4 linked regions of the Homo sapiens genome follow. The protein of the gene in region 1 binds, or shares a complex with, the protein of each later gene. Each region holds a gene or a part of one and is shown in the gene's direction. Other genes may lie near its edges.

The links.
Region 2: SNRNP200 (region 1) and PRPF4 share a complex: the UniProt entries of both Homo sapiens proteins name them as parts of the U4/U6-U5 tri-snRNP complex.
Region 3: SNRNP200 (region 1) and SF3B2 share a complex: the UniProt entries of both Homo sapiens proteins name them as parts of the minor spliceosome.
Region 4: SNRNP200 (region 1) and USP39 share a complex: the UniProt entries of both Homo sapiens proteins name them as parts of the U4/U6-U5 tri-snRNP complex.

What each region holds. Positions count from the first base shown.
Region 1 is NC_000002.12:96,280,939-96,289,247, reverse strand, and holds part of SNRNP200 (U5 small nuclear ribonucleoprotein 200 kDa helicase), read left to right. Parts: coding exon 1-21; intron 22-130; coding exon 131-211; intron 212-501; coding exon 502-585; intron 586-1,278; coding exon 1,279-1,385; intron 1,386-1,690; coding exon 1,691-1,809; intron 1,810-2,087; coding exon 2,088-2,242; intron 2,243-2,370; coding exon 2,371-2,560; intron 2,561-2,763; coding exon 2,764-2,937; intron 2,938-3,907; coding exon 3,908-4,068; intron 4,069-4,662; coding exon 4,663-4,890; intron 4,891-5,243; coding exon 5,244-5,435; intron 5,436-5,534; coding exon 5,535-5,713; intron 5,714-5,895; coding exon 5,896-6,047; intron 6,048-7,325; coding exon 7,326-7,434; intron 7,435-8,309. UniProt on the Homo sapiens protein: Catalyzes the ATP-dependent unwinding of U4/U6 RNA duplices, an essential step in the assembly of a catalytically active spliceosome. Plays a role in pre-mRNA splicing as a core component of precatalytic, catalytic and postcatalytic spliceosomal complexes.
Region 2 is NC_000009.12:113,284,706-113,293,014, forward strand, and holds the end of PRPF4 (U4/U6 small nuclear ribonucleoprotein Prp4), read left to right. Parts: intron 1-1,487; exon of another isoform or gene 1,488-1,503; coding exon of another isoform or gene 1,504-1,526; coding exon 1,527-1,585; intron 1,586-1,999; coding exon 2,000-2,123; intron 2,124-3,469; coding exon 3,470-3,559; intron 3,560-5,760; coding exon 5,761-5,883; intron 5,884-5,994; coding exon 5,995-6,102; intron 6,103-6,192; coding exon 6,193-6,311; intron 6,312-6,761; coding exon 6,762-6,955; 3' UTR 6,956-8,200; downstream 8,201-8,309. UniProt on the Homo sapiens protein: Plays a role in pre-mRNA splicing as component of the U4/U6-U5 tri-snRNP complex that is involved in spliceosome assembly, and as component of the precatalytic spliceosome (spliceosome B complex).
Region 3 is NC_000011.10:66,061,142-66,069,450, forward strand, and holds the end of SF3B2 (splicing factor 3B subunit 2), read left to right. Parts: intron 1-544; coding exon 545-634; intron 635-749; coding exon 750-857; intron 858-1,867; coding exon 1,868-1,975; intron 1,976-2,258; coding exon 2,259-2,401; intron 2,402-2,486; coding exon 2,487-2,588; intron 2,589-6,804; coding exon 6,805-6,904; intron 6,905-7,006; coding exon 7,007-7,192; intron 7,193-7,532; coding exon 7,533-7,604; 3' UTR 7,605-8,167; downstream 8,168-8,309. UniProt on the Homo sapiens protein: Component of the 17S U2 SnRNP complex of the spliceosome, a large ribonucleoprotein complex that removes introns from transcribed pre-mRNAs.
Region 4 is NC_000002.12:85,646,745-85,650,651, forward strand, and holds the end of USP39 (ubiquitin carboxyl-terminal hydrolase 39), read left to right. Parts: intron 1-1,185; coding exon 1,186-1,272; intron 1,273-2,016; coding exon 2,017-2,064; 3' UTR 2,065-2,539; downstream 2,540-3,907.

The sequences.
Region 1 (8,309 bases):
AAGAACATCACAGTGAGAGAGGTGAGCCTATGCAGCATGATGGGGCGGGGAGTTGGTGCTCACCAAGTCACTGAATGGTGTCCCTCCTCGGCCACAAGGCTTTCCCTTGACCTTTTCCTCCTTGTGGCAGGAGGAGAAGCTGGAGCTGCAGAAGTTGCTGGAGAGGGTGCCTATCCCTGTAAAGGAGAGCATTGAGGAACCCAGTGCTAAGGTGAGCTCCTCTCCTCTTTGCTTTGATAAGGATGAGGATTAAGTGGTTTTCATAATCTTCTAAAAGATGAACCTTGAATTTGGGTTCATGTGTGGTTTCCTGCTCAGTTCTCCTAGTTTTTGCAGCCTTCTCGCATGTTCTTTTTATATGAAATAACAATTATTTAGTATTTGTAAATCAAGACCTGTAGCAAATCTCACCTGGCCTGGATGCTCAGAGCAGAAATGTAATTCCCTTTCTTGGACTGTTCAGTGATTGGTCTCCTGCTGGCTGATTTTGCTTCTTTACAGATCAACGTTCTTCTGCAAGCCTTCATCTCACAGCTGAAATTGGAGGGCTTTGCACTGATGGCTGACATGGTGTATGTCACACAGGTGAGAGCGGAGTTGTATGGCAGCTGTGAGAAGGGGCCTGAACAGTTCAATCCCTGTGTGCTGTGTGCATCCTGGGGAAAGGAGGCCCGACCCTAGTGAGATGGGAGGAGTGCTTAGTTCTGCTCTTGCCGGGTAGTTGGTTGGTGCATGTGTGGTACAGCCACTCTGTAGTATACATCTTGAGCACGTGGGAAAGGTAAGACCTTAAGAGGGAATGCTTCGAGGCTCCACGGGCCCTCAGAGAGACAGGAAGAGCCACAGCACGCAGTGTCTGCTTCCCAGCAGCAAAGTGATTTCCCACTGTTGCTGCACAGCTCATAAATAAATCCAAAAATGGCACAGGGTTTTATTAGCTGCTCTTCATCTTTACCTCTAAGAACAGGTCACTGGTACCCTCAACTCTTCCTAGAACTCTAAATGCTAAATGACTCAAAAGCTTTAAAATCATGCAGTGAATGTTAGGTTAAAATGTTGTGCAGTGACCTTGAGCCGCAGCACTCTTCTAATTGTTCCCCATCCGGCAAGCATCTACTATATGGAACGGAGAAAGGCGTAAAGACAGAGGGGACTTTGCCTTTGAGTTAGGGTGGGTGGTTGTGTCAGAGCTGGAGGTAATGAAACCGTGTGTAGAGTGGCTCATGAGGCCTGGGGATAGTCGAGACTTAACAGTGGGAATGCTGCTTCTTTGCTTAGTCGGCTGGCCGGTTGATGCGAGCGATATTTGAAATTGTCCTGAACCGAGGTTGGGCACAGCTTACAGACAAGACCCTGAACCTCTGCAAGATGATCGACAAACGCATGTAAGGACCCAGTGAGCTGGATGCTGGTCACCATGAGTGGGGGTCCCCAACCCAAGGGTCTGATGGGAAAGCCTCAGGGTGCATCTGATCTCCAGACCTGACATCGGAAGTATGACCTGAACCTTGGTGCACATTGAGAAGAGGGAAGGCCCTCTGTGGTGGAGGCCAGGGCTGGCACAGTGTCAGTGTCTGCCTTTAATGACTGTGTTTTGTGTAGTCACTGCTAAACTATTGGAAGCCATGAAGTGGGTGGTTTGTCACATCCCTGCAGAAGGGACCAACAGCTTTGCCTCCTTCCTGGATAGGTGGCAGTCCATGTGTCCTCTGCGCCAGTTCCGGAAACTCCCTGAGGAAGTAGTGAAGAAGATTGAGAAGAAGAATTTCCCCTTTGAGCGTCTGTACGACCTGAATCATAATGAGATTGGTGTGTGGGATGCTCTCGCCCTTGTCCTCACTGCCTGGGTGTCTCTCCCAGTTTGCCTATGTAGTCTTCCTGTTCCTAGGCCTGTGCATTAGTATCCTGTGTTCACTCCCCAAGTCCCACTGAAGTACAGGCTGGCCCTTGGTCTGGGGACTTGGAATCCTGGGCTCCACTGACCATAAAGGGAAGACCCTACCCCTTTCCCACAGTGGCCCTCAGGCCCAGTTTGCAGTATAGTAGGCAGGCTGGGCTGCAGCCTCAGTACTCTCATTTCCTTGTAGGGGAGCTTATCCGCATGCCAAAGATGGGGAAGACCATCCACAAATATGTCCATCTGTTTCCCAAGTTGGAGTTGTCAGTGCACCTGCAGCCTATCACACGCTCCACCCTGAAGGTGGAGCTGACCATCACGCCAGACTTCCAGTGGGATGAAAAGGTGAGGCTTTGCTGGGCAGAGGTGCTGGATTGGAGGTGCTCAGTCTACGTTGCTGGGCCGAGGAGATGGATTGGAGGCACTCAGTCTACGTTGACTCACATTCCTTTTACCCTTGCTCCTGTTGGCAGGTGCATGGTTCATCCGAGGCTTTTTGGATTCTGGTGGAGGATGTGGACAGCGAGGTGATTCTGCACCATGAGTATTTTCTCCTCAAGGCCAAGTACGCCCAGGACGAGCACCTCATTACATTCTTCGTGCCTGTCTTTGAACCGCTGCCCCCTCAGTACTTCATCCGAGTGGTGTCTGACCGCTGGCTCTGTGAGTGTCTCCTCTCCAGAGTCCCCAGGAACAGTCCCTCCAAGGACAGTAGAAGAATGTCTTGCACTTTGTCCCGGGCTTGCCCTTGCTGGGGACAGAGTGATACATATGCTGCCTAGGTTTCCAGTGTTCATGGAGGGGATCTAGAGGCCAGTGAGGGAAAGAGAGCAGTGCTTATATCCTTCCTGTTTCTTTTCTGGCAGCTTGTGAGACCCAGCTGCCTGTCTCCTTCCGGCACCTGATCTTGCCGGAGAAGTACCCCCCTCCAACCGAACTTTTGGACCTGCAGCCCTTGCCCGTGTCTGCTCTGAGAAACAGTGCCTTTGAGAGTCTTTACCAAGATAAATTTCCTTTCTTCAATCCCATCCAGACCCAGGGTAAGTGTTTCCATCCCTCCTCTGGAGGCTTTTGAAGTCACCGGGAGACAGATGTGCTCTGTGGCAGGCAGGGGAGTGGGGGTGCTCAGGCACTTGGGAGGTCTGGGAGCTCCTCAGTGTGACCGCTGGGACCCACCAGGACTTTTTCCTTTGTCAGAAGCCTTTGGTTGCTTTGCTGCTCTGCATGTGTCACTGTGGAGGGGCAATAGAGCAAGGCCTTACATGGCATGGTCATTTCTCGGGCCCAGGAGGCTTAGAGGCCTGCCCCTGGCGCTCAAGTATTGAACCAGAACCATGGGGTGGCACTGAAGCCTCCTCACCACATCATGATAAATAACGGGGACATTCACAGAGCAGGCACTGTTTCCTCAGTCCATGGCTGAGTACATCACCGGTGTTTTCTCTCTTATTCCTCCCATCAAGCCTAAAAGGAATCTCTATTGGAGATACTGCCATTAGTGTTCCTTTTATAGGTGAGGAACTGAGGCATAGAGGGTTCCCCAGTTGAACCAACTGATAAATAGTAGAACTTGGATTTTAATTCAGTCTTGATGCCAGGGATAAGGCTCTTACTTTCTACCTTAGGCTATTTCTAGGAAACGCAGGAGAGTGTTGAAGGGGCAGAGAAAGGGATCCAGTTCCTTTCTGTCCCGCATCCTAGTCCCTGAGAAGCAAAGAAGAATGTGTGGCTTCTTTTGCTTTGCTTTTGTTGTCATCCCACACATCTCCAGGGGACCTGGGCTCTTGATCTTGGCCTCTTCCCCTTTAACTGTTAAGTGGGAGCAGGTAAGGGGGTACAGTAGGGCTGGCCTGGAGTTAGAGGCTTGGATGCCTTAGCTCCTCTGTCTGCACTCCAGAACTGCCTGACTTCATTTCGTATGTTGTCCTTTGTTTTGACAATTGATCCATGTCCCAGTCCGTCTCTTCTTCCTTCTTGATACTTACACTGCTTCTTTCTGTTGGTTTCCAGTGTTTAACACTGTATACAACAGTGACGACAACGTGTTTGTGGGGGCCCCCACGGGCAGCGGGAAGACTATTTGTGCAGAGTTTGCCATCCTGCGAATGCTGCTGCAGAGCTCGGAGGGGCGCTGTGTGTACATCACCCCCATGGAGGCCCTGGCAGAGCAGGTATGACGTGGCGCTGTGTCATGTGAATTTCCCAAGAAGCATTTCATCTGTGATTCCGTATGAAGGCTTTCTAAGCCCTGAAATTTGCAGGGTCATTTCCTCAGTTTGTGTATTAAAGAAAAGCTGCCCCAGCCAAGCGTGGTGGCTCACGCCTGTAATCCCAGCACTTTGGGAGGCCGAGGCGGGCAGATCTCCGGAGATCAGGAGTTCGAGACCAGCCTGGCCAACATGGTGAAACCCTGTCTCTACTAAAAATACAGAAATTAGCTGGGCGTGGTGGTGTGCGCCTGTAATCCCAGCTACTTGGAAGGCTGAGGCAGGAGAATCGCTTGAACCCGGGAGGCGGAGGTTGCAGTGAGCCAAGTTCGCACCACTGCACTCCAGCCTGGGCAACAAGAGCGAGACTTCATCTCAAAAGAAAAAAAAAAAAGAAAAAGCTGCCCCATCGCATCGCATAGAGGCTGCTATGGGATTAGAACGTAGCTTGAGATCTGCAGGTCAACAGGTCTGTTTGGCATCTCAGGTTTTCCTCACATAAGTGAAAGATGCCTGGTATGGCCTAGTGTTGTTCTGCCTCCCTCCTCTGCCCGCCAGGTATACATGGACTGGTACGAGAAGTTCCAGGACAGGCTCAACAAGAAGGTGGTACTCCTGACAGGCGAGACCAGCACAGACCTGAAGCTGCTGGGCAAAGGGAACATTATCATCAGCACCCCTGAGAAGTGGGACATACTTTCCCGGCGATGGAAGCAGCGCAAGAACGTGCAGAACATCAACCTCTTCGTGGTGGATGAGGTCCACCTTATCGGGGGCGAGAATGGGGTATGGCGTGACCTTGCAGCACAGATGAGGGACTGGGACTGACCAAGTGGCCTTGGCATTGGACCTAATGTTTGGGTCTGAGGACGGAGGCTCGGGGCTTCTCCCCAGAGGATTCTACCTGCTGCCCTATTCCAAAGGGACAATGTTAACTTTTTTGGTAGTACTTTAGGAAAACAGTATTGTTTAGTGGAGGTTGGCTGCCGTGGAGGAGGTAGAACCAAACACATGAGAGCTCCTAGTTAGAAGGAAGAATGAGGTCATTTTGAGGCTGTTGGGCTGTTCACAAAGGGGACCTCCAGGCAGAGGATGGGAGCCTTGGCCTGCAGTGACCCTCCCTCCCTCCCTCTTTCCAGCCTGTCTTAGAAGTGATCTGCTCCCGAATGCGCTACATCTCCTCCCAGATTGAGCGGCCCATTCGCATTGTGGCACTCAGCTCTTCGCTCTCCAATGCCAAGGATGTGGCCCACTGGCTGGGCTGCAGTGCCACCTCCACCTTCAACTTCCATCCCAATGTGCGTCCCGTCCCCTTGGAGCTGCACATCCAGGTAGGACCCACTCTCCTCATCCGTCTGTGGGGTGTCACATAGATCCTGAGTGACCCAGGTCTGATAACCTTGGTGTCTTTTCTTCTCCCCGGTCGCCAGGGCTTCAACATCAGCCATACACAAACCCGCCTGCTCTCCATGGCCAAGCCTGTGTACCATGCTATCACCAAGCACTCGCCCAAGAAGCCTGTCATTGTCTTTGTGCCGTCTCGCAAGCAGACCCGCCTCACTGCCATTGACATCCTCACCACCTGTGCAGCAGACATCCAACGGCAGAGGTAGGTGGGGCCTGGCGTCTGGGGGTTGGGGTTAGGTTAAGTGAGGCTGGCCTACTCCAAGGGTGTCCTCTTTATGAGGGTGGGGTTAGCCCATGTTGCTTGGGGCCAGGTTCTGCACAGCTGGCAAAGTGTCTGCCAGGAATTGAACTACTCTGAGCTGAGCCAGTGCCTGTACCGCACAGGTTCTTGCACTGCACCGAGAAGGATCTGATTCCGTACCTGGAGAAGCTAAGTGACAGCACGCTCAAGGAAACGCTGCTAAATGGGGTGGGCTACCTGCATGAGGGGCTCAGCCCCATGGAGCGACGCCTGGTGGAGCAGCTCTTCAGCTCAGGTAAGTCAGGCCACGGAAGGGGAGCATAGCAAGGGTATCACCAAGTGGTGGTGTTAAACTTGAGGGGTGCGGGTGGCAGTGTTTTCTCTACAGCATACCAGAGATTTTCAAAATACTGTTTAGGACTCTTGGCTGTTAACTCATTTGATCCTCCCAAGAACCTCGTGAGGCAGGTGAGACAAACACTATCCCTACTTGCCAGGTGAGAAAACAGGCAGACACATCAGGTTGTGCTATTTCAGAACCTGGTTTTCTAGAGTCCAGGACCTTTGGCCACCAGACCGCTGATTCTCCGTGGATACCAGACTCCCCAAGTGTATTAGTCCGTTCTTGTATTGCTATAAAGAAATACCTGATACTGGGTCATTTATAAAGAAAGGAGGTTTAATTGACTCAGTTCTGCAGGCTGTACATGAAACATGGTGTTATCTGCTTCTGGGAAGGCCTCAGGGAAGGCAAAGGGGAAGCAGGCATCTTATATGGCAGGAGTCAGGACCGAGAGAGTGAGTGGGGAGGTGCTACACACTTTTGAACAACCAGATCTCGTGAGAACTCATTCACTAGACAGTACCAAGGGTGGGTGGTGCTAAACCATTCATGAGAACTCTGCCTCCATTAGCCAGTCATCTCCCACCAGGCCCTTCCTCCAACACTGGAGACTACAGGTCGACGAGATTTGGTGGAGACACAGATCCAAACCGTCTCACCAAGATAGTTAGACTTTAGAGATTAGCACAGAGGAGAGCTCTGATTCTCCCTTGAGCTCACTCTTGCTGGCCACTGTCTCTTGTTGCCCTGTGGCATTTTGTGCAAAGATTTACGTTTTAATACTGTTTATTGGAGCCTCATTGGAGATTCTTCTGCCAGAATCACTTCCTGTCACTCTTTGGCCCTTGAATCTGCCTGTTTGGGGCATGCTTAGAGTGATCTCTGTTTTGCTGGCATGGCTGAGCCAGCCCGTGGCTGCATGAGTGTTAGCACTTTCTGGTCAGAGGAGCAGTCCATCAGCTGTAGTTTTGCCTTGGTGTTCCTGGGCTTTGGGTTCTGTTCTATGATGACTTGTTTTCTCCTGGATAGTCCCAGAGCAAGGCACCAGCAGCGTGGAGCTACCTCATAGCAATGTGTTAGCTCTCATTCATGTTAGACCTTGTTCCTAGCCAGCCTTGCTGTGAGTTCTGAAACATAGCACAGGGTAAGCCACGGCCTGCCCATGAGGCAGTGAGCCTACTTCACCCGGAGACCCCTGCCCTCAGCCTTCCTCTCCCCTCTACTGCTCAGGGGCTATCCAGGTGGTGGTGGCTTCTCGGAGTCTCTGCTGGGGCATGAACGTGGCTGCCCACCTGGTAATCATCATGGATACCCAGTACTACAATGGCAAGATCCACGCGTGAGTACAACTGGTGCTCTGTGTTAGCACAGACCTCCTTCCTAAAATGAATGTGAATCTGCAGATACACAGAAAGTAAGCTAGGATGAAGAAAAGGTGTTAGGGAAGTTAACAGCTGAGATGCCACCAGAGCCAAGTGTTTGAGAGTTTTGTGTCTCAATACCTAGGCTCACATTTGCTTTTTAGTCATTGTGCTTCCTTATTCAGCAGCTGGGAGAGGTAGGAAATTAGAGCCAGGAGGAATGTTTGACGTTACGTCATTAATCTCAGACATCTTGTAGATTAGGAAAAGTGACTTGGTCGAGGTCATACACCTATATAGTGACAAGTAAGAAGCTAGAGGAGTGCCGAGCGCAGTGGCTCATGCCTGTAATCCCAGCACTTTGGGAGGCTGAGGCGGGCGGATCACTTGAGGTCAGGAGTTCAAGACCAGTGTGGCTAACATAGTGAAACCCCCGTCTCTACTAAAAATAACAAAAATTAGCTGAGTGTGGTGGCAGGCGCCTGTAATCCCAGCTACTTGGGAAGCTGAGGCAGGAGAATCAGTTAAACCTGGGAGGCAGAGGCTACAGTGAGCTGAGATCCCACCATTGCACTCTAGCCTGGGCAACAGAGTGAGACTCCAACTCAAAAAAAAAAAAAAAAAAAAAGCCTGGGTGTGGTGGCTCACACCTGTAATCCCAGCACTTTGGGAGGGCAAGGTGGGCAGATCACCTGATGTCAGGAGTTCAAGACCAGCCTGGCCAACATGACAAAACCCCGTCTCTACAAAAATTAGCCAGGTTTGATGGCAGGTGCCTGTTATTCAAGCCACTCACCTGTAATTCAAGCCACTTGGGAGGCTGAGGTTGGAGAATCACTTGAACCCAGGAGGC
Region 2 (8,309 bases), on another chromosome or scaffold:
TCTTTTTCAGTTATGTGACCTCGCTAAGATACTTAATTTCTGTAAGCTTCAGTGTTCTTACCTGTAAAGTGGGATGAGGTAGTGTTTGCAAGGCATTTTGCCTTGACAGTGCCTGGTATGTAGTAAGGACTCGTTAAACGTTAATTATTGGTTTATCTTTGTTTTATTTTCTTATCACCACATATGCAGAAAACTCAGGATGTGGTAACTTTGTTGTTTTGTTTGAGTTTGGTTGTGTTTTTCTGTGGGACATGGCTATCTAATGAGAAAGGAAACTTAGATTGAATACACAGGAGCTACTTGACTAGGCTGACCTTTAGATGGGTTCAGGAGAAAGCCAAGGTTCTGCACAAATGAGTCCACCTCTCCAAGCCTCATTACCTTCACTATAAAGTTTGATCGTTCCTGCCGTACCTGCTTCACAGGTCTGTTAGAAAGATCATCCGAGATAATAGATATAAAAGTAATTTGTTGAAAAATTTCCAAAATAAGAAGTCTCTAAAAAGTTTAAGGCCAGCCAGCCATGGTGGCTCACACTTGTAATCCCAGCACTTTGGAAGGCCACGGCAGGAGGATCACTTGAGCCCAGGAGTTTGAGACCAGGCTGGGCAACAATAGTGAGACCCTGTCTCTACAAATTTTTTTTTTTTTTTTTTTTTTTTTTTTTTTTTTTTTTTTTTTTTTTTTTTTTGAGACGGAGTGTCACACTTTCGGCCAGGCTGGAGTGCAGTGGCGCGATCTCGGCTCACTGCAAGCTCCACCTCCTGGGTTCACGCCATTCTCCTACCTCAGCCTCCCAAGTAGCTGGGACTACAGGCACCCGCCACCGCACCCAGCTAATTTTTTGTATTTTTAGTAGAGACAGGGTTTCACCGTGTTAGCCAGGATGGGCTCGATCTCCTGACCTTGTGATCTGCCCGCCTTGGCCTCCCAAAGTGCTGGGATTACAGGTGTGAGCCACAGCGCCTGGCCCAAAAAATTTTTAAAAATTTATTTAATTTTTTAAAACGTTAGCCAGGTGTGGTGGCATGCGCCTGTTAGTCCCAGCTACTCAGGAGGCTGGGTGATAGAATTGCTTGAGCCTGGGAGGTTGAGGCTGCAGTGAACTGTGATCACACTACTGCACTCCAGCCTAGGTGACAGAGTGACACTGTTTCTCAAAAAAAAAATTTAAATACTTTGTAATCAGCAAAATACTATTCATATTTAAGGACAGTATCACTATTAATATTCGTATTATTGGATAGTTTAATTTGCCCCACCTTCCCTCACAAGTGGATCCAAAAGTTAAGGAGAATGGCTACTGGTGTAGTGTTAATTATAGTCCAGTAAAAGCCTCTGGTTGCGTGTGGGCTGGAGGTAGCTTTTTCTTCTATAACCCTTCTAACTATAAGGCTTTTATTTTTCTGTCAGCCATTGTAAAGTTTATTGGGGGTGAGAAGAGATTGTCCTTTAGTAATATTACCAAGGTACCTTTTCCTTCCCAGACCAACCCTGGCTGAGATGCTTTCCTTTGTATTTGATAGGAGTGGGCTTTGCAAGCTCTGGTCTGTTCCTGATTGCAACCTCCTTCACACTCTTCGAGGTAAGTTAGAGTCTTATCCAAATCTCGGTCTTTTTCCCAGTGTGAACTCAGTTAAGCCTTAAACTCTGCTTGACACTCAGACCCCATACACACAGCATTAATCCTTGATTTGATTTGACTTGGTTTTCTCTGGCTGCAAGACTGGACTATCACAACTTCCTACACATCCACTTTTCTCTCATGTGCAGTCACACTCTGGCATTTTATAATCTCTAAACCAAAAACCAAAATGGGTTTTTTTGTGTTTTGCTTTTTTAAAAATGTAATTTAAATATTAGCTTAAATTAAAATAGTTCATGTTTTAATAGTTGAATAGTCACTTGAATACTCTGTATGTCCACATGTTCCCTAGTATATAACATGGGTTATAAAGAGGCAGGAACCTTTTAACTTGCATCTCTTACACTCCTTTAGGGCATAACACAAATGTAGGAGCAATTGTATTCCATCCCAAATCCACTGTCTCCTTGGACCCAAAAGATGTCAACCTGGCCTCTTGTGCGGCTGATGGCTCTGTGAAGCTTTGGAGTCTCGACAGGTGAATATCACTGTTCTGTGGCCCATACTGCCATCACTAAAGTAGATGTTTGATTGGTTGGTCCCCAGGACCTCAGTAAAAATCTGGCATTTAGGCCATGCGCAGTGGCTCACACCTTAAGGCTGAGGCAGGAGAATTGCTTAAACCCGGGAAATGGAGGTTGTGGTGAGCCGAGATTGCACACTGCACTCCAGCTTGGGTGACAGAGCAAGACTCCGTCTTGAAAGAACAAAAAAAAAAATCTGGCATTTAACCCCCAAGATGGTTTAAGAGTCAAGGTAACCTAGTGTGAAAATGAAGTAAGTGGAAGATTTCATTCTTAGGCCTTTTCTTACTAAAGGAGTTATGTCCGTTTTTTCTTACCTGTTAACTTTGGATCTTGATTTTTGTCTATAGCCTAGTGACCACTATTTCCTAGCTCCATTTATTCCAGAAAGATCCAGCCTACCTCCTACATGATAAATTAACAATGAACTAAATATAATATTCTTGGCAGTTCGTTGGTTCTTAGCAAACAGCCACAGGGGAGAGGAAAGTGAGGTTCTGTCTAGCAGTATTACCACGGAGATGTCTCCTCGCAATAGCATCATCCTTTACCTAGAATGTATTTTCCAACTACAACAGTTTTTAAAAATGTGTTTATGTGATTGTTTTCCAAAAAAAAAAAAACTTCGGAAGCACCCTGTTGGCCAAAAGGCATCTGAATTTAATTGTTTAGTTTTCTTTCTTTGGGAAAACACATGAAGGTTTTTACTTGAGAATTTTTATGAGAGCTAATTAATGTCTTCACTCCTCACCAGACAGGGTCTCACTTAGGAGCGCAGTGAGTTTTAATTGGCTTTGGTAATACTTAGCAATGTTTATTCCCCTTGGGCTTTGGCTTGTTCTGTGTATGCACATTGACAAAGTTCCCTTTTTAATTGCGTTCCTTAGAGTTCATGTTTATTTCCTTTTGCTGATGTTCAGATCTTTTGGTGGTTGCTGGGTAGCAGAATTTAATGGCCACCAAAAGGAGACTAAGCCTCATCTCTATTTAGGAGTTCCTTTTTCATTTGGATCTTGGAACAGGCCTAAATTTGAAAAAGGTTTATCTGTAATCCACTTGTACCAAAACTATGTGATTTCTGTGTCCTTATATCTCTTCCAAAGCATGTTTTCTTTCTAGAATCCAGGTACTCCTTTGGTGCAGAATGACTATTTTGCTTATTGGGCCAAAGTAGTTTACAAGTGTAGTTACAATTTAGCCTCTCGTGTTGTACAGAATGGGTATGTCTGCACAGAAGGTAAGCAGTTTTGTGACTATTTATATGTCTATAAAATTGTTTATATGTTTGGTTCCTTTCCAGTGATGAACCAGTGGCAGATATTGAAGGCCATACAGTGCGTGTGGCGCGGGTAATGTGGCATCCTTCAGGACGTTTCCTGGGCACCACCTGGTGAGCCATCCTGTTATTGTTTTATCCATATAGGCCTGTAGCATCTTCTTAACCCTTTATGGCTATCTGCCAGGTAAATTTTTAGAGCAGAGATCTTCAGGTAGGATTTTCTTGGGCTGCAGGGAATTGGAATCAGAGGAGAATGTTTAATATAGTGAGAGCTAAGTATATTTGCCTTTTTTTTTTTTTTGAGGTGGAGTCTCACTCTGTCACCCAGGCTGGAGTGCAGTGGCGCGATCTCGGCTCACTGCAACCGCCGTCTCCCGGGTTCAAGCAATTCTCCTGCCTCGACCTCCCGAGTAGCTGGGACTACAGGCGCGTGCCACCATGCCCAGCTAATTTTTTTATTTTTAGTAGAGACAGGGTTTCACCATGTTGGCCAGGCTGGTCTTAAACTCCTGACCTCAGGTGATCTTCCCGCCTCAGCCTCCCAAAGTGCTGGGATTATAGATAACAGGTAACGCGCCCAGCCATATTTGCCTTTAAATTACAATTAATCTGAAATTTCAGAGTTACAAATTACCAGAAAACAAGGATTTTCACTCTTGTCCAATGCTACAGGTATATAAGTCTCCCTTCCTGGTTCTGTAAGTTCAGGGAGGCTAGAATCTGTTAGAGAACTTTTCCATTAAGTTATAATTTACATACAATGGAATGGATTTATTTTAAGTGTACAATGCTGTCAGTCTTTACAAACGCGTACCATTCCTGTGATCGACACCTCTGTCAATATAGAGAATAGTCCATCACCCCAGAAAGGTCCCTCATGCCCTTTTCCAGCCAACTCCCCCTTCTAAAGCAACTGCTGATCTGACTTCTATCACCACAAATTAATTATGTCTATTCATACTGTGAATTCATTTGTGGCAGGCTTCTTTCAGCATAACATTGTTAAGAGTCATTCATGTTGTTGCATGTATCAGTAATTCCTTTTTATTGCTGGGGGTTATTCATTTTTATGACTGTGCCATAGTTTATCCATTCTCCTGTTGATGGACACTTGGGCTGTTTCCAGGTCTGGGCCAGTCAGAATGAAGCTGCTATAAATATTCTTGTACCAGGCTTTTTGTGGACATGAGTACAATTGCTGGGTCATAGGGTAGAGGTATGAGATGTATATTTAACTTTTTCTAAACTCCCCACCAGTTTTCCAAAGCGGTTACACCATTTTACATTCCCGGAGTTCTGGTTACTTCACATCCCTGTTAACATTTGGTGTTGTCAGTCTTACCATTTTGCCCAATCTAGCAGGTGTGTAGTGATCTCCCGTGATTTTCATTCTTATTACCCTGATCATTATTGCTCTTGAGTGCTCTGTCATATGCTTTGCCTGGTTTTTTAAATTGTGTTTGTCTCTTTTGTCTTTATTTCCATGTGCATAGTCAGTTATACCACCTTGTATTGAAGAGACTTTCCTTTCTCTGTTGGAATTGTTTCAGTACCCTTGTTGAAAATCATCTGACCATATATGTGTGGTTATTTCTGTACTTCCTATTCTCTTCCATTGATCTATTTGTGTATGAGTGATTTTTGTATCCCCAACATCCAATTTAGGGCCTAGTAAATGTATAAATGCTTGATGAATGAAAGAATATAACAGTGGAGGAAGAAAGAAGGTAACAGAGTCTTTGCTGGGCCATTCTTGGGGAATCCTGTTATTACAATAGCCACTAGGTTGGGCATGGTGGCTCACACCTATAATCCCAGCACTTTGGAAGACCACGGTGGGTGGATCACCTGAGCTCAGGAGTTCGAGACCAGCCTGGCCAACATAGTGAAGCCCCATCTCTATGAAAAATACAAAAATTAGCTGGGCATGGTGGCGCACACCTGTAGTCCCAGCTACTCAGAAGGCTGAGGCAGGAGAATGGCTTGAACCCGGGAGGTGGAGGTTGCAGTGAGCCAAGATTGCGCCACTGTGCTCCAGGCTGGGCAACAGAGTGAGACTCTGTCTCAAAAGAAGAAAAAAAAAAAAGCCCTAGAGGTTTACAGCGATTCCATGGTTTTCAGCTAGCACCTAAGGCAGATAAGCTTAGTTGTTGAGTCATTGTTTATGTCAGAAAGGAGCTTCCTGTTAATATGGTTATATGAATAGTTTCAGAAGCATTAATAACTTAAGCTATAATGGCTTAGAATACTTTATGTGTTGTAGAAACTGAATAAATATCAGCTGGTTGATTGTTAGTGTGATTTGGTTTTAGCTATGACCGTTCATGGCGCTTATGGGATTTGGAGGCTCAAGAGGAGATCCTGCATCAGGAAGGCCATAGCATGGGTGTGTATGACATTGCCTTCCATCAAGATGGCTCTTTGGCTGGCACTGGGTAAGGCTTCTCCCATGTAGTCAGGGGCAGTTCAGTACTCTCACCTCTTACCTATACCTGCTTCCACAGAGAACTGGATTCAAAGTGTTCATTTCTAAATTATTTTCTCAGGGGACTGGATGCATTTGGTCGAGTTTGGGACCTACGCACAGGACGTTGTATCATGTTCTTAGAAGGCCACCTGAAAGAAATCTATGGAATAAATTTCTCCCCCAATGGGTAAAATAAACACACTGAATGAGGGGCGAAAAAGGGTTCTGGGTCAGTAAGTACTCTATTTCTAACTTCAATACTGCATCCAATCCACAGCTATCACATTGCAACCGGCAGTGGTGACAACACCTGCAAAGTGTGGGACCTCCGACAGCGGCGTTGCGTCTACACCATCCCTGCTCATCAGAACTTAGTGACTGGTGTCAAGTTTGAGCGTAAGCTTTCCTCCTATTTTACGTCTAAATGACACAGACAAACAGTATTGTGTTCCCGTGGAATGCAGGCCAGGCTTTAGCTTAACTGAGCAGTAAAACAGGAGAGAAATTGACCTACTGGTAAAGGAGCAAATTATAATTTCCTTCCCTCTGCCATACCCTTAGATCTGTGGGAAAGCACGCTTCTCGTTGCAGGAAGTAAAGCAGACTTTCATGAGTGCTTTGCTTCATTCTTTCCTCCATGGATGCTCTGAGCACTGAGTCCTTAATATTATTCTGAATAGATTCTCGGTCAGGGAATGAGCCAAAAGACCTTACTGTTATTTGTTCCCTTAAGTCTGTAGAAACAAGTTTTTTTAAAAATAGTATGTTTTTGCAGACTTTTGTGCTTTTGTCTTCTCTTTTGAATACTTGAATTCCTCAAGCAATTCCCCTTCTCTTCTCCTGTAGCTATCCATGGGAACTTCTTGCTTACTGGTGCCTATGATAACACAGCCAAGATCTGGACGCACCCAGGCTGGTCCCCGCTGAAGACTCTGGCTGGCCACGAAGGCAAAGTGATGGGCCTAGATATTTCTTCCGATGGGCAGCTCATAGCCACTTGCTCATATGACAGGACCTTCAAGCTGTGGATGGCTGAATAGATGACAATGGGAAAAGGACTTGAACCTCAAGCTCTCTCTAAGGAGCTGTTTTCCTCAAACGAGAAGAATTGAAGTGTTTAGTTCTATCATGTTTTCTGCCAATTACCATGCATAGACCCTCAGTAGAATTGGATTTCCATGTCAGCCCCCACTCCAGGAAGGCAGCCCAATCCCTAGGTGATGGGGAACCCCTCTCACGGTTGAAAATTTATTACCTTTTTACGCCCTGCCACGAACTGTGTAGACATTGTTTTTATTAATCTTTTGTTTGGCCGGGCGTGGTGGCTCACGCCTGTAATCCTAGCACTTTGGGAGGCCGAGGTGGGTAGATCGCTTGAGCTCAGGAGTTCAAGACGAGCCTGGGCAACATGGCAAATGCCGTCTCTGCAAAAAAATACTAAAATTAGCTGGTCGCGGTGGCTTCTGCCTGTGATTCCGGCTACTTGGGAGGCTGAGGTGGGAGGGATTGCTTAAGCCTGGGAGGCAGAGGTTGCAGTGAGCCGAGATTGCGCCATTGCACTCTAGCCTGTGTGACAGAGCAAGACCCTGTCTCAAAAAAAAAAAAAATTTGTTCGAATGCCTTATAGCCTTCCTCACAGCACCCAGGATTGTGACTGACTCTGCATTTTTAATTCTTGAAACTTGGCTTTCCATAACATGGTACATGCTTCAGGACTACATATGACCCAGAGAGCAAGGTGGCTGAACTATAGTCTGGAAGCCCTCAGGTAAAGAGGCACATCTCACCACTCATTGGTTAAACAATGCATCATAGCGAGCACTTTTCCTTTCCCTGGAGAATGGGATGTGAAGCAGTAGACCGCAGCCACGCCGATGGTTATACAGTGAAGAAGACTTCACCTCTTCCTATTGAGTTTGCTTGGAATGCTGACAGCATCAGGCAACTCTGAACTGAACATTTGCTTTGTCAGAAAATATCTTTTTTTTTACTTTGAAGTTTGGCAACCTTCATGTTACCCCAAAGCAAAACCATTGTGTCAGGAGTCAAACAAATGTTTAGAAAGCAAACATGACGTCTCTATTGTACAACCTCCTTTCTCTTGGCTGTTTAAAGGATGTACTTCGTGTATTAAAGGGTACTTTATGTTGAAGTAACGAAAAAACCCTAATGGGTGTTCCTAAACCTAAACCTTTTCTTTATTCCACATTTGCTACGGTAAAATCCTGTTACAAAACTACCCTATAAAGAATTATTTTCTATAGTTAAGCATTTTCTGAATCCTAGCCATTGGTCCATAGAGGTCTCTTTTTTTTGGTTTGGGATATAATGGATGATCTCAAATATGGATTACTCTGATTTATGTCTCCTTAGCACCTTGTTAACAATTTTTTT
Region 3 (8,309 bases), on another chromosome or scaffold:
TGCCCATCGACTACCCTCGGATGAGATGGAATTTAAAAATGAGGCTCTATTTGGAGGAGAGATGCAGATCTGGTGGCTTCTTTCCCTGATAGACTCTTCGTATCCTGTCTTAGAAATGATAATAGTTTGTGGTAGGTGGTTTAGGGATGGAGGGGCCAAGGGGCAGATGCTTTTAGGAAACTTTTAATATTGGGAGTGGTAGAGAAATTGCTGGTTTTTTCTGATCCTTGAAATCGTAGTCACCATGATGTCATGGAATTTATGAGGTGGAAGAATTTTGCATATCTTCCTGTCGAGTGCCCTCATTTTACAGATGAGGAGGCAGGTCCTAACGTTGGCCGTGTTCTCATAGTGGGTTATTGACAGCACTGTGAGTCTGGCCTGGTTTTTATTCCTTCCCCGACTTTGGCCAGGGAAAGAAGTGATGAGAATCAGAGTGGGAGCCAGGTAGCCCTCACTGGGATTTTATATCTGATGTGCGTTAGGATTGTGCTCCCACTGAGTGTCTGGGTCTACAATGTAGCATGCTCTGCTTTTCCCTCAGGGGAAGGAGTTCGAGACACGACTGAAGGAGAAGAAGCCAGGAGATCTGTCTGATGAGCTAAGGATTTCCTTGGGGATGCCAGTAGGACCAGTGAGTGTCAGTTAGCTGTCTGGGGAAGCAGCGAAGAGGCTGGTGGGGATTGGAGTGGAAGGCAGAGACAGGGATAGGGTTTGGCAGATGGTATCCTGTTCTCTTTTTCCTGCAGAATGCCCACAAGGTCCCTCCCCCATGGCTGATTGCCATGCAGCGATATGGACCACCCCCATCGTATCCCAACCTGAAAATCCCTGGGCTGAACTCGCCCATCCCTGAGGTGAGCATTGTCCTTTCGTTCATTCTTGGCCATTTCTGCTTTTGAACTGGAAGGTAATTTGTTTGTTTTCCTTCTCTAACTCCACCATGTGTCTCTTTATTTACTTAAAAAATATTTTATTGACATAATATTTGTCATATACCATGTGTATGTGTAGAAAAACAAATAATGGTTTTTGTTTTTTAAAGAAACTGACATGCTCATCATAAAATATTCAGTCAGAATTGACAAGTACAAAGATGAAAGCAAGTCACAATTTTACCACTCAGAAATAGCCAAATTCACTGTTTGGTGAATGTGTTTCCAGATATGTCTCTGAATATTAAGAATGACCAGAGAGAAATAATTTTATCTCAGCCAGATGTGGTGTCTCAACACCTGTAATCCCAGCACTTTGGGAGGCTGAGGTGGGAGGATCCCTTGGGGCCAGGGGTTTAAGACTAGCCTGGGCAACATAGTGAAACCGCACCTCTACTTTAAAAAAAAAAAAAAAGAAAAAAGAAATAATTTTTTTTTAGCTTCACTTCAGTCTCTCAGAAATAATTTTATCTCAAGAATGTCTTCAAATTTCTTATTTTAAAATAAGCATTAAAAAAATTGATGAGTCATTAAAGTAAAACAGTAGTATTGTTAAATTTTAGATAGAAATTTCTGCCCCTTAAGATAAATAGATTCTGAACAAGCTAGCTTTCCAAAGTTAGGAAAACTCAATAAGAAATTGAAGTCATGTTTTCAATGTACGTATTTTGGTTTCAGACAGTAAAGACTCTGCCATGACAGAAGTTATTAGCATACTTTCTGCCTCCTGTCTCCTTATCCTGTTGCCTCCAGATTTTAGTTGTTTATTAATTTTGGTTTCTAATGCTTCATAACATTTGATTTAATTCTGCAGTCATAATTTCCGGAGTTCCCAAGTATCAGCTCTGTACTTTTGAGTGTGCCTTTTCTCTAGGGCTTCAGAATTTCTTTTGCAGCTAAGGAGTGAACTGATTGTGCTCACTGTCTTGCAGAGCTGTTCCTTTGGGTACCATGCTGGTGGCTGGGGCAAACCTCCAGTGGATGAGACTGGGAAACCGCTCTATGGGGACGTGTTTGGAACCAATGCTGCTGAATTTCAGGTATGGGCCATGTACTAGCGATCTTGGTTTTACTTAATGTCATGAAGGTTAGATTGTTGGTTTATAGCTTCATTATCAGGGAGTTGTGTGTTCTGACACAGCAGAGCCTGGAAAAGGGCATACATTTTCCTGAGATGTTAATGTAAGCTCCTCACTAGAATTTGAGCTCTAGGTAGGTAGGGATTATTGTGTTTTGACTCTTACACCCCTTCAGCTTAAAACAGCCTGGCACATAATAGGTACTTAGAAAACATTTGTTGAATGATAAAGTGATCTCTTTCAGACCAAGACTGAGGAAGAAGAGATTGATCGGACCCCTTGGGGGGAACTGGAACCATCTGATGAAGAATCCTCAGAAGAAGAGGAAGAGGAAGAAAGTGATGAAGACAAACCAGATGAGACAGGCTTTATTACCCCTGCAGACAGGTGGGGGAAGCAGAGAATGCCTCTTGGAAGTGGGCTATCTTTGGGGTCCTTCTCTTTACTCCAGAGCTTGTTCCTCTCTTTACAGTGGCCTTATCACTCCTGGAGGCTTTTCATCAGTGCCTGCTGGAATGGAGACCCCTGAACTCATTGAGCTGAGGAAGAAGAAGATTGAGGAGGCGATGGACGGGTAAGGGTACCAGACAGGGCTGAGAGGGGAGGACCTTCACTTCCCTTTGGCTGGCTGGCTGACTGTTGTTCCTTTCTCCCTCATCCTTTTTTAAACAATTATTGAACCAACTCTCTGCCAGGCACTACTGTAGGCAGTGAGGAGTCAGCAGTTGAGGTAAACTGGTAATCAGAGAACAAGATACTTTCAGATGTAGATAAGGATGTTGAAGCAGAGGAAACTGGGTAATGGGATGGGGTGGCAGGGAGGCCTTTGGGAAGGCCTCACTGGGGAGGTGGTGCTTGAACTAAGACCCGAATGAAAAAGCGCCAGCCACAGGATCATCTGGGTCAGAAGTAACAGTAAATGCAAGCAAGTGCAAAGGCACTGAGACAGGGATGGGCTAGTATTTTGAAGCTCCATTTTTAGGTAGTTGAATGTGTAGTGTTGTTAGGTCTTCATGAATTGACCCCTTTATCATGAAATGACCCTCTCTTTATCCATTCTGCTCTTTGTTCCCTTTTTCCTGTTTTTCTACCTTCTTTTGGATTACTTGAACAATTTTTATGATTTCATTTTATCTCCAGTGTTGGTTAATTAGCTGTTAAGTTTTTGCTTTGTTATTTTAGTTGTTGCTCTGGGGTTTATAGATCATGTCTTTATCAGGATCTACCTTCTCTTGATGTTACACTGCTTCCAGATAGTATTAAGAGCCATTATAGTATACTTCATTTCTCTCCTCCCAATTTTTGCACTATATTGTCATATATTCACTTTTACATATGTTATAAATCCTATACTATATAGTTATTATTTTTGTTTAAATGGTCAGTTATCTTTTAGGGAGGTTTAAATAAGAATCATGCATGAAGCCATGTAGTTACCATTTTTGTTTCTTTCATTTCTTTGTGTATATCCAGGTTTCTATCTGATATCATTTTTCCTCTGCCTGAAGGGCTTCCTTTAACATTTCTTAAGTTAGGGGGCGTGGTGGCTTAAGCCTGTAATCTCAGTACTCTCAGTACTTTGGGAGAAGGCTGAGGTGGTAGGATTGCTAGATTCCAGGAATTTGAGACCAGCCTGGGCAACATAGTGAGACCCCATTTCTACAAAATATTAAAAAAACATTTCTTGTATTGTGGGTCTGCTGGTTTTGAATTTGTTCTGCTTGAGTAGTCTTAAAAATTCTTTATTTGGCCTTCATTTTTGAAAGATCTTTGCCAGGTTTAGGATTCTAGGTTGACAATCTTTTTTCTTTCAACACTTTTTTTTTTCTTCTTTGAGATGGAATCTTGCTATGTCGCCCAGGCTGGAGTGTAGTGGTGTGATCTTGGCTCACTATAACCTCCACCTCCTGGGTTCAAGCGATTCTCCTGTTTCAGCCTCCCGAGTAGCTGAGATTACATGTGCATACCATCACACCCAGCTAATTTTTATATTTTTAGTAGGGATGGGGTTTTGCCATGTTGGCCAGGCTGGTCTCGAGCTCCTGGCTTCAAGTGATCCGCCTGCCTTGGCCTCCCAGCTTGTTGGGATTACATGTGTGAGTGACCGCATCAGCCTTCTTTCAGTACTTTTAAGATGTTGCTCCAGTGTCTTCTTTCTTGCATTGTTTCTAGTGAGAAAACTGCTGTCATTCTTACCTTTGTTCCTGTGTACATAATGTGTCATTTTTATTTGGCTGTTTTTAAGATTTTATCACTAGTTCTAACAATTTGACTACAATGTGCCTTGGTGTAGTTTCTGAATGTTTCTTTGCTTGGGGTTTTTTAAGCATCTTAGATCTGGGTTTTTAGTTTTTATTAATTTGGGGAAAATTTTGTCATGATTTCTGCAGATATTTTCTCTGTTCCCTTCTCTTTCCTTTGGGAACTCAAATTATTCCTCTATTAATGAAATAATAAATGAAAAAATAAATGAAGAGCTCACTGATGCTCTTCATTTTTAAAGAAATTCTTCTCTCTTTGTATTTCACTTTAGAAAATTTCTATTGCTATATGTTCAAGTTTACTATTATTTTCTTCTGTAATTTCTGATCTAACAGTAATCCCATACAATATAATTCTCCTTTCTAGAAGTTTGATTTCGGGTCTTTTAAATCTATTCTTTCTCTCTTAACTTTTTGAACATGTGGAATGCAGTTATAACAATATTTTATTTTTATGTTATTTTATTTTATTTTATGACGGAGTCTTGCCCTGTTGCCTAGGCTGGAGTGCAGTGGCGTGATCTCGGCTTACTGCAACCTCTGCCACCCAGGTTCCAGCAATTCTTGTGCCGCAGCCTCCCAAGTAGCTGGGACTATAGGCGTGCGCCACCCCACCCAGCTAATTTTTTTGTATTTTTAGTAGAGACAGGGTTTTACCATGTTGACCAGGCTGTTCTTGAACTCCTAACCTCAGGTGATCTGCCTGCCTCGGCCTCCCAAAGTGCTGGGATTACAGGCATGAGCCACCACACCTGGCTATAACAACATTTTAATGTATTGTCTGCTAACTCTAACATCTGTGCCATTTCTGGGTTGACTGCCATTAGTTGATTCATTTTCCTCATTATGGATTGTATTTTCCTACTCTTTTGCACGCCTGGTAATTTTTTTTTCTTTTCCTTTCTTTTTTTGAGAGAGGTTCTCACTGTGTTGCCCAGGCTGGTCTTGAACTTCTGGGCTCAAGCAATCATCCTGCCTCAGCTTCCCAAAGTGCTGGGATTACAGGTGTGAGCCATCAGGCCTGTCCAGTGCCTGGTAATTTTTTATTGAATGCTAGGCTTTGTGAAATTTACCTTGTTGGGTCCAAGATATTTTTGTATTCCTGTACATTTTCTTCAGCTCATTCGGGAATATAGTTATATGGAGATAGTTTGATCCTTTCAGGTCTTGTTTTGGGGTTCTTGAGGCAGGACTGAAGCAGTCCTCCCCATTGTGAGGCACAAGTACCTGTGTACTCTACCCACCACCCTGTGAATCAGGAGGTTTTTCCGGCTGGCTAGTGGGAGTTACTCTATTCCCAGTTCTGAGTGAGCAGCAGTTGCTGTTATGAATCCTTTTGGGTGCTTCTTTCCCTGTCCTTGGTAGGCATGTGCTGCTTAGTACTCCCCTGCATACTTGAGGACCTTCTGTAGGTCTCGAGTTCTCTCTCTGCTCTTTTCTCCAGTACTCTATCCTGTGAACTCTAGCTGCCTTGATCTCCCTGGACTTTCAGTTTCATCCTCCCAACTCACGGAGTCCTCAGGGCTCTCCATGAGTCTCCCCTCTGTTCTGTGGCCTGCAAACTCTCAGGTGTGGTATGCTGGGGCAGTTGAAGGGCTCATCACATTTGTTTCCTGTCTCGCAGGAATCACTGTGCTTTGTTGCCCCATGTGTAGTGTCTTGAAAACCACTGTTTCATATATTTTGCCCATTTTTTTTGGTTGTTTCAGGCAGGAGGGTGTATCTGGTTCCTCTTGCTCCTTGTCAGGAAGCAGAAGTCTCAAGCTTTGCATATTCAAGGAAGAAAAATAAAGAAGGGTACTGTGGACAGAGTATAGTGAGGAGGGCTTGGGTAAGGGACCAGGCTATGAACCCTTTAGGTCATGGTAAGGAGTTTGGATTTTATTCAGATAATGATCAGAAGCCTCAGAGGGTTTTGAGCAAAGGTCTGACAGGACCCGACATCCGTTTTAAGGTATTTTCTCTGGCTCCTGTGTGGACAATAGATTGTCACCTCTTCCAGCGGGAGAGGTGGAGATGATGGGCATAGTCTGGGGTGATAGTGGTAGATTTGCTCTTGTTCCTAGTGTAATCCTTGAAATTAGTGGTGAAACTGGCTGTGGATGGCTCTTGCGTTGGAAGGCCTGGAAGTGTGAATTACATACATGAGAACTCCAGGCATGACATTCTTCGGGTGGGAACTGTTGTCGCCTGCTCTATCTTGCCAGCTTCTCTGTACCAAAGTTCTTTTGGAAACTTTGAGCCTCTCTGACCTTTTGACCCTTATGTGCATGTGGGAGTCCTGGTCTGTGATCCCTTGACTTGATTCAGGGGGCCCCTTAGCTCCATCTGTGTTCCCTGGAGTCAGCACTGTGCCACCCCCCCGCCCAATTCTTTTCTGTCATGGGCAGAACTGCAGAGGCTGCATCCTTGGGGAGCTCAGAAGCTCTCCAAGGCGCTGAGTGGAGGTGCCACCTGTATCTTTTGTTTCCGCTTCTGGAGACCCTTTTGTCCCTTGCTTTTTGGGCCTGATCCCATTGTCCTTCGCAGAAGTGAGACACCTCAGCTCTTCACTGTGTTGCCAGAGAAGAGAACAGCCACTGTTGGAGGGGCCATGATGGGATCAACCCACATTTATGACATGTCCACGGTGAGTACTTGGAGGATACTGCTTTTGGAGGCTGAGAAAGGCAGCAGAAGCTAGGGCTTCTCTGACTCTTTGGAGATGACCAGGCCCTGATCTCCTTTCCAGGTTATGAGCCGGAAGGGCCCGGCTCCTGAGCTGCAAGGTGTGGAAGTGGCGCTGGCGCCTGAAGAGTTGGAGCTGGATCCTATGGCCATGACCCAGAAGTATGAGGAGCATGTGCGGGAGCAGCAGGCTCAAGTAGAGAAGGAGGACTTCAGTGACATGGTGGCTGAGCACGCTGCCAAACAGAAGGTAGGCGCTTCCAGGGGCGCTGGGCTGGGTGAGAGCCAGGGACCCTGGCCTGCCGTTTTCAGTGGCATGGTGCCCTCTAGTGGTGAGAGTGAGGGTGGCCTCTGCTTGCTGCTCTGTGCTTCCTTAGATTTGGAAGTCTTAGAAATCCTCCAGTGGGCTGCCCTCTTTAAGGACGATGAGGGGGAGGAACTCAGCCAAGTCTGAGAGGGAGCTCGAAGAGAATTCAGATTCAGCGCCTTTCCCACAGACTTCTATGTCTATGTCAGGCTGCCCACCCTTGTTTTGGGGGTCCGGGGGTGGTTCAACCTGTCTTAACCTGTGTCTCTTTCTCCCTATACAGCAAAAAAAACGGAAAGCTCAGCCCCAGGACAGCCGTGGGGGCAGCAAGAAATATAAGGAGTTCAAGTTTTAGGTCCCCTCACACTAGCCCTTTTTTTGGCCCTACGTCTGGATGCCTGGGCTTCACACAAGAACCACCTCTCCCGCAGTTCCCAAGGACTTGTCATTTCATGTTCTTATTTTAGACCTGTTTTGTAAATAAAGCTGTTTCCCAAGGAAAGAGATGAATATTTAACACTCCTGAGCCTCCCTCATCTCCTTTTAGCCCCTTCTTGCAAAAGGACTAAAATAGTCTCTTTCTACAATCACTGGGCTGCCCCAGTAACCACGAACATAAACTGGGATTAGACGGCGCATTTGACTGGTGGTGACGCCAACCCCAGGCTGAAATCTGTGTTTCACCACTGCCCTGCTTTGTAGGAAGGCTTGGGGGAAGTACCTCTAGGTCTGGTTTGACCTTACTACTTTGTCCTTGGGGAGTAAAAATAGCCAGATTAGCGCCCTAGCGCGGCAGAGGAAGTAACAGTGGGCTTGGGAAGTAGGCCAGGGCAGGCCTTCCCAACTGACCTTGTGACCAGAAGTTCAAGTCCTTACCTGTGCGACAACATAGCTCAAAAGCTAAATTGTCTTGAGTCCATATGAACCCTTGGGTTCAAGCAACACTAGTCGCTGGGGTTTGGGATTTGTATGTGGGATGGGGGGACTTACTTTCTCCAGGTTGTAATCTGGTCCTGAGCAGCCTTTCTGACAGACTAGAGCAGGCTGGATCACTGGCTCC
Region 4 (3,907 bases), about 11 Mb from region 1:
ACATTTTTTCCTTGTTCATGGAAGCATGAAGTGAGATACGTTTTGCTGTATTTGTAGCACTGGTTTCTTAGGCCAAAGGAATCAGGTTAGTGTGATAGACAGTGTCCACCAAGGACACCTTTTCTTGATGACCTGTTGCTTTTTTTTTTTTTTTTTTTTTTAAGACAGAGTCTCACCCTATCACCCAGGATGGAATGCAGTGGCATGATCTTGGCTCACTGCAACCTCCACCTCCTGGGTTCAAGTGATTCTCCTGCCTCAGCCTCCCAAGTAGCTGGGACCTACAGGCACCTGCCACCAGGCCTGGCTAATTTTTGTATTTTTGGTAGAGACGGGGTTTTACTGTGTTGGCCAGGCTGGTCTCAAACTCCTTACCTCAAGTGATCTGCCCACCTCGGCCTCCCAAAATGCTGGGATTACAGGCGTAAGCCCCTGTGCCCAGCCAGGAATGTCCATATTTAGGTTCTCTCAGTGGTTGACACTGTGTACCTCATAAGTGAGAATGTCTAGTCTGTCATTTCTGAGCAGGAAGGAGACATCATAGGTGATGATTAGATGGCTTCCTCTTTTCTCATCTTTAGTGTCCACTAAATTCCTTTTAAAAAGATGTACAGAAGTGTTTCAGACTCCATTGTACTTCAAGGGGCCAGGCGCAGTGGCTCATACCCATAATCCTAGCACTTTAGGAGGCTGAGGCGGGAGGATCTTTTGAGACCAGGAGTTAGCCTGGGCAACACAGTGGGACCCCATTGCTATTAAAAAAAAAATTAGCCAGTTTTAGTGGCACACACCTGTAGTTCCAGCTACCTGGGAGGCTGAGGGGAGGATCGCTTGAATCCAGAGGGTCAAGGCTGCAGTGAGCTGTGATTACACCACTGTAGTCCAGCCTGGGTGACAGAGTGAGACCCTGTCTCAAAAAAAAAAAAAAACAAAAAAACAACAAACAAAAAACAGTGCTTTAAAAAAATTCCCAACAGGAATTGAGTTTGCCATGATTGACACACCAAAAGTCCTATTAATTGAATCATGGCCAGAAGAAGTCATGTACCCTCTTCTTTATGACTGTTGCTGGATGATGTCTAGTGGCTGTTCTTCTAATTTTTCTAGTCTTGGCTATGATCCTTTCCTTCTACACCCTTTTGGTTTTAGAGAGCAGACTAACCCAGCTCTTCATACTTTCTGCAGGGGACAGGCAAATGGTATGAATTACAAGACCTCCAGGTGACTGACATCCTTCCCCAGATGATCACACTGTCAGAGGCTTACATTCAGGTGGGTTGGCCACAGGCTTAGTGAGCCACAAATAGGTGGCGTATGGGGCCAGTGAGAGGAGTGGGCCAAGGCAGGAAGAGGGATAGAGTTAGGACCTTGGTTGGAGGGCCAGGTACCTATTGGGAAGTACTTAGTAGTGAGTTGGGGGCAGAATGTATGGCCCTGAAAGTCAAGCAGAGATTTTCAGAAAAGAAGTATAAGGAAGTGTAGAAAATGTATGAGTGAGCAAAGAAAGTTGCGATTATGGCCAGGTTAGTTTTGCAGAAGTGTGCGGTCTGGTTTCGAGGAGGAAGAACCTAGACTCATCAGGGAGGCTGGCTAGAAGTCGACCACGAAGTGCTCCCCAGAGCCCCAGGCAGCTTTGTGACCCCACAGCGCTTTCTACTTGACGTTTGTTTTAGTGCCGGCCATATCGCTTTGCCTGTCTGTCCTCTCCATTGGATTGACCCATGGAGCACAGAGCATCTCTGTCTTCTCTTTATGTAACTGCCCTAGTACCTGGCAAAAGAAGGAAGATTGAGACAAAAGCCATAGCTTTGTAAGAAGAAAGTGATACCTCTCCTTCTAGAGATAACTTTTTTCTCCTCAGTGGCTGTAGCCACTGTAGCAGATTTCCAAATGGGGTATAGCAGATTTGTAAATGGGGTGACAAGTTGTCCATGGCCTGGCACAGAATAGGTATTTGATAAGTGTCTGTTGACTGAATGCCTCCTAGACTTCAGTTTGTGTTTTCATTTCTTACAGATTTGGAAGAGGCGAGATAATGATGAAACCAACCAGCAGGGGGCTTGAAGGAGGCGTCTAGGGCTTTGCTCCCAAGGGCTGTGGCTGATGATGGTAAATAAGAACACAGAAGCTGTAGCTGAACACAGGCTGGCTGGTGGGCTTCCTAGGCCAGCCCAGCTTGTATGGGTTCTGGCTACACCAGAGCACCAAGAGCCCACTTGCCTGGGATGGCCCCACACTGTCACTCAGCTGTTCTTTGATCATTTTTTTCTAGATTGATGCTCCTTTCTCCCATGCATTGAGCTCCCATCTAGCTTCAGCAGGGCAGAACCCTTCTCCAGATGTGTGTAACTTATGTCTTGAGTATCTGGGAGTAGTTGAAGAACAGATAATTCCTTCCAAACATCAAGCCTTGGGATTCTTGGAGCAAGCAGAAAGCCAGTAACTTCGCTCTGTTAGAGGTGGAGGATTTTCCTATGGTTCCCCCCATTTCCTGATTTGTATTTTTAGATGGATTAAATAGTCTCCTGTTTTTAAACCAGCCTCTTGTTTTATATCTTTTCCTTTGGTGGTTGGCTGAGGAAAATATTTTCCTTTTTAATCTTCACAAACTCTCTACCCTACAGTCTGACATCTGGTGCACATCACGCTCGCCCTTTCCTGTCAGCTTGTGGGTGGTGTGTCAGTTAGGATGCATTTGTTTCTAAGTAAAAAAATACCTGAGTCAAGGGGATACATTATTATTGTGCTTAACTAGAGGGCCAGAGGTGGGCAGTTTCCAGCTGCAGTGCAGGAATGAGTAAGGGAAGAGGAAAAAAAGGAAATAGGAAGCGCTTCTCACTACAGTGCAATTCTGAGGTGGTCTCAGCCAGTCCAGTGTGGAGCCCCAGGGCAAAGATTCCGTCAGACAATTCAGCAGAAATGGCTCCCATCAAGCTCAGTCGTGGGCTCTAGCAGCCTAGAAGAAGGGTGGCCTTGGCATGAGCACTGTGGCAGGTCCAAAGATATGGGAAGCAGCTGGAGGCAGCCAGTCAGCCCCAGCAAGTTCTGTTGAATGGAGACAGGAGCCCCGCACTCCTGTGGTGCCACCCTTTACCTGGTCACAACCTTGTCCTCACTTTCCTCTACCTCTCTGGAAGCTCCAGTATTTCCTTAGGAGGCTTATCTCTTCTATCCAGCCATTAAATTTGGGTTTTCTCAAGATTCAGTCCTAGCGTCACTCTTCTTGCTGTTTACTTTTTCCCTAGGCCATTTCAGCTATGCATTTTTATGGAAATGACTCATAAACACATCTTAATCCCAGATTTTTCTAAACTCTTGAACTTCGCTCTGTTGCCCAGGCTGGAATGCAGTGGCACAATCTTGGCTCACTGCAACCTCCACCTCCCAGGGTCAAGTGATTTCCGGCTAATTTTTTTATTTTATTTTATTTTATTTATTTTATTTTATTTTTTAATTTTAATTTTTATTTTAGAGATGGAGTCTTGCTCTGTCGCCCAGGCTAGAGTGCAGTGGCATGATCTCAGCTCACTGCAACCTCTGCCTCCTGGGTTCAAGTGATTCTCCTGCCTCAGCCTCCTGAATAGCTGGGATTATAGGCGACCACCACCGTGCCCAGCTAATTTTTGTATTTTTAGTAGAGACGGGGTTTCATCATGTTGGCCAGGCTGGTCTCGAACTCCTGACCTCAAGTGATCCACCCGCCTCGGCCTCCCAAAGTGTTGGGATTACAGGCGTGAGCCATGGTGCCCAGCCCTATTTTTGGGTGTTTTAAAGTAAACTCAAACTTAACATTGTTTAGAACTGAGCTTGCCAGGTGTGGTGGCTCCTGCCTGTAATCCTAACACTTCGGGAGGCTGAGGTGGAAGAATTGTTTGTGGCCAGGAGTTCAAGACCAGCCTGGCCAACA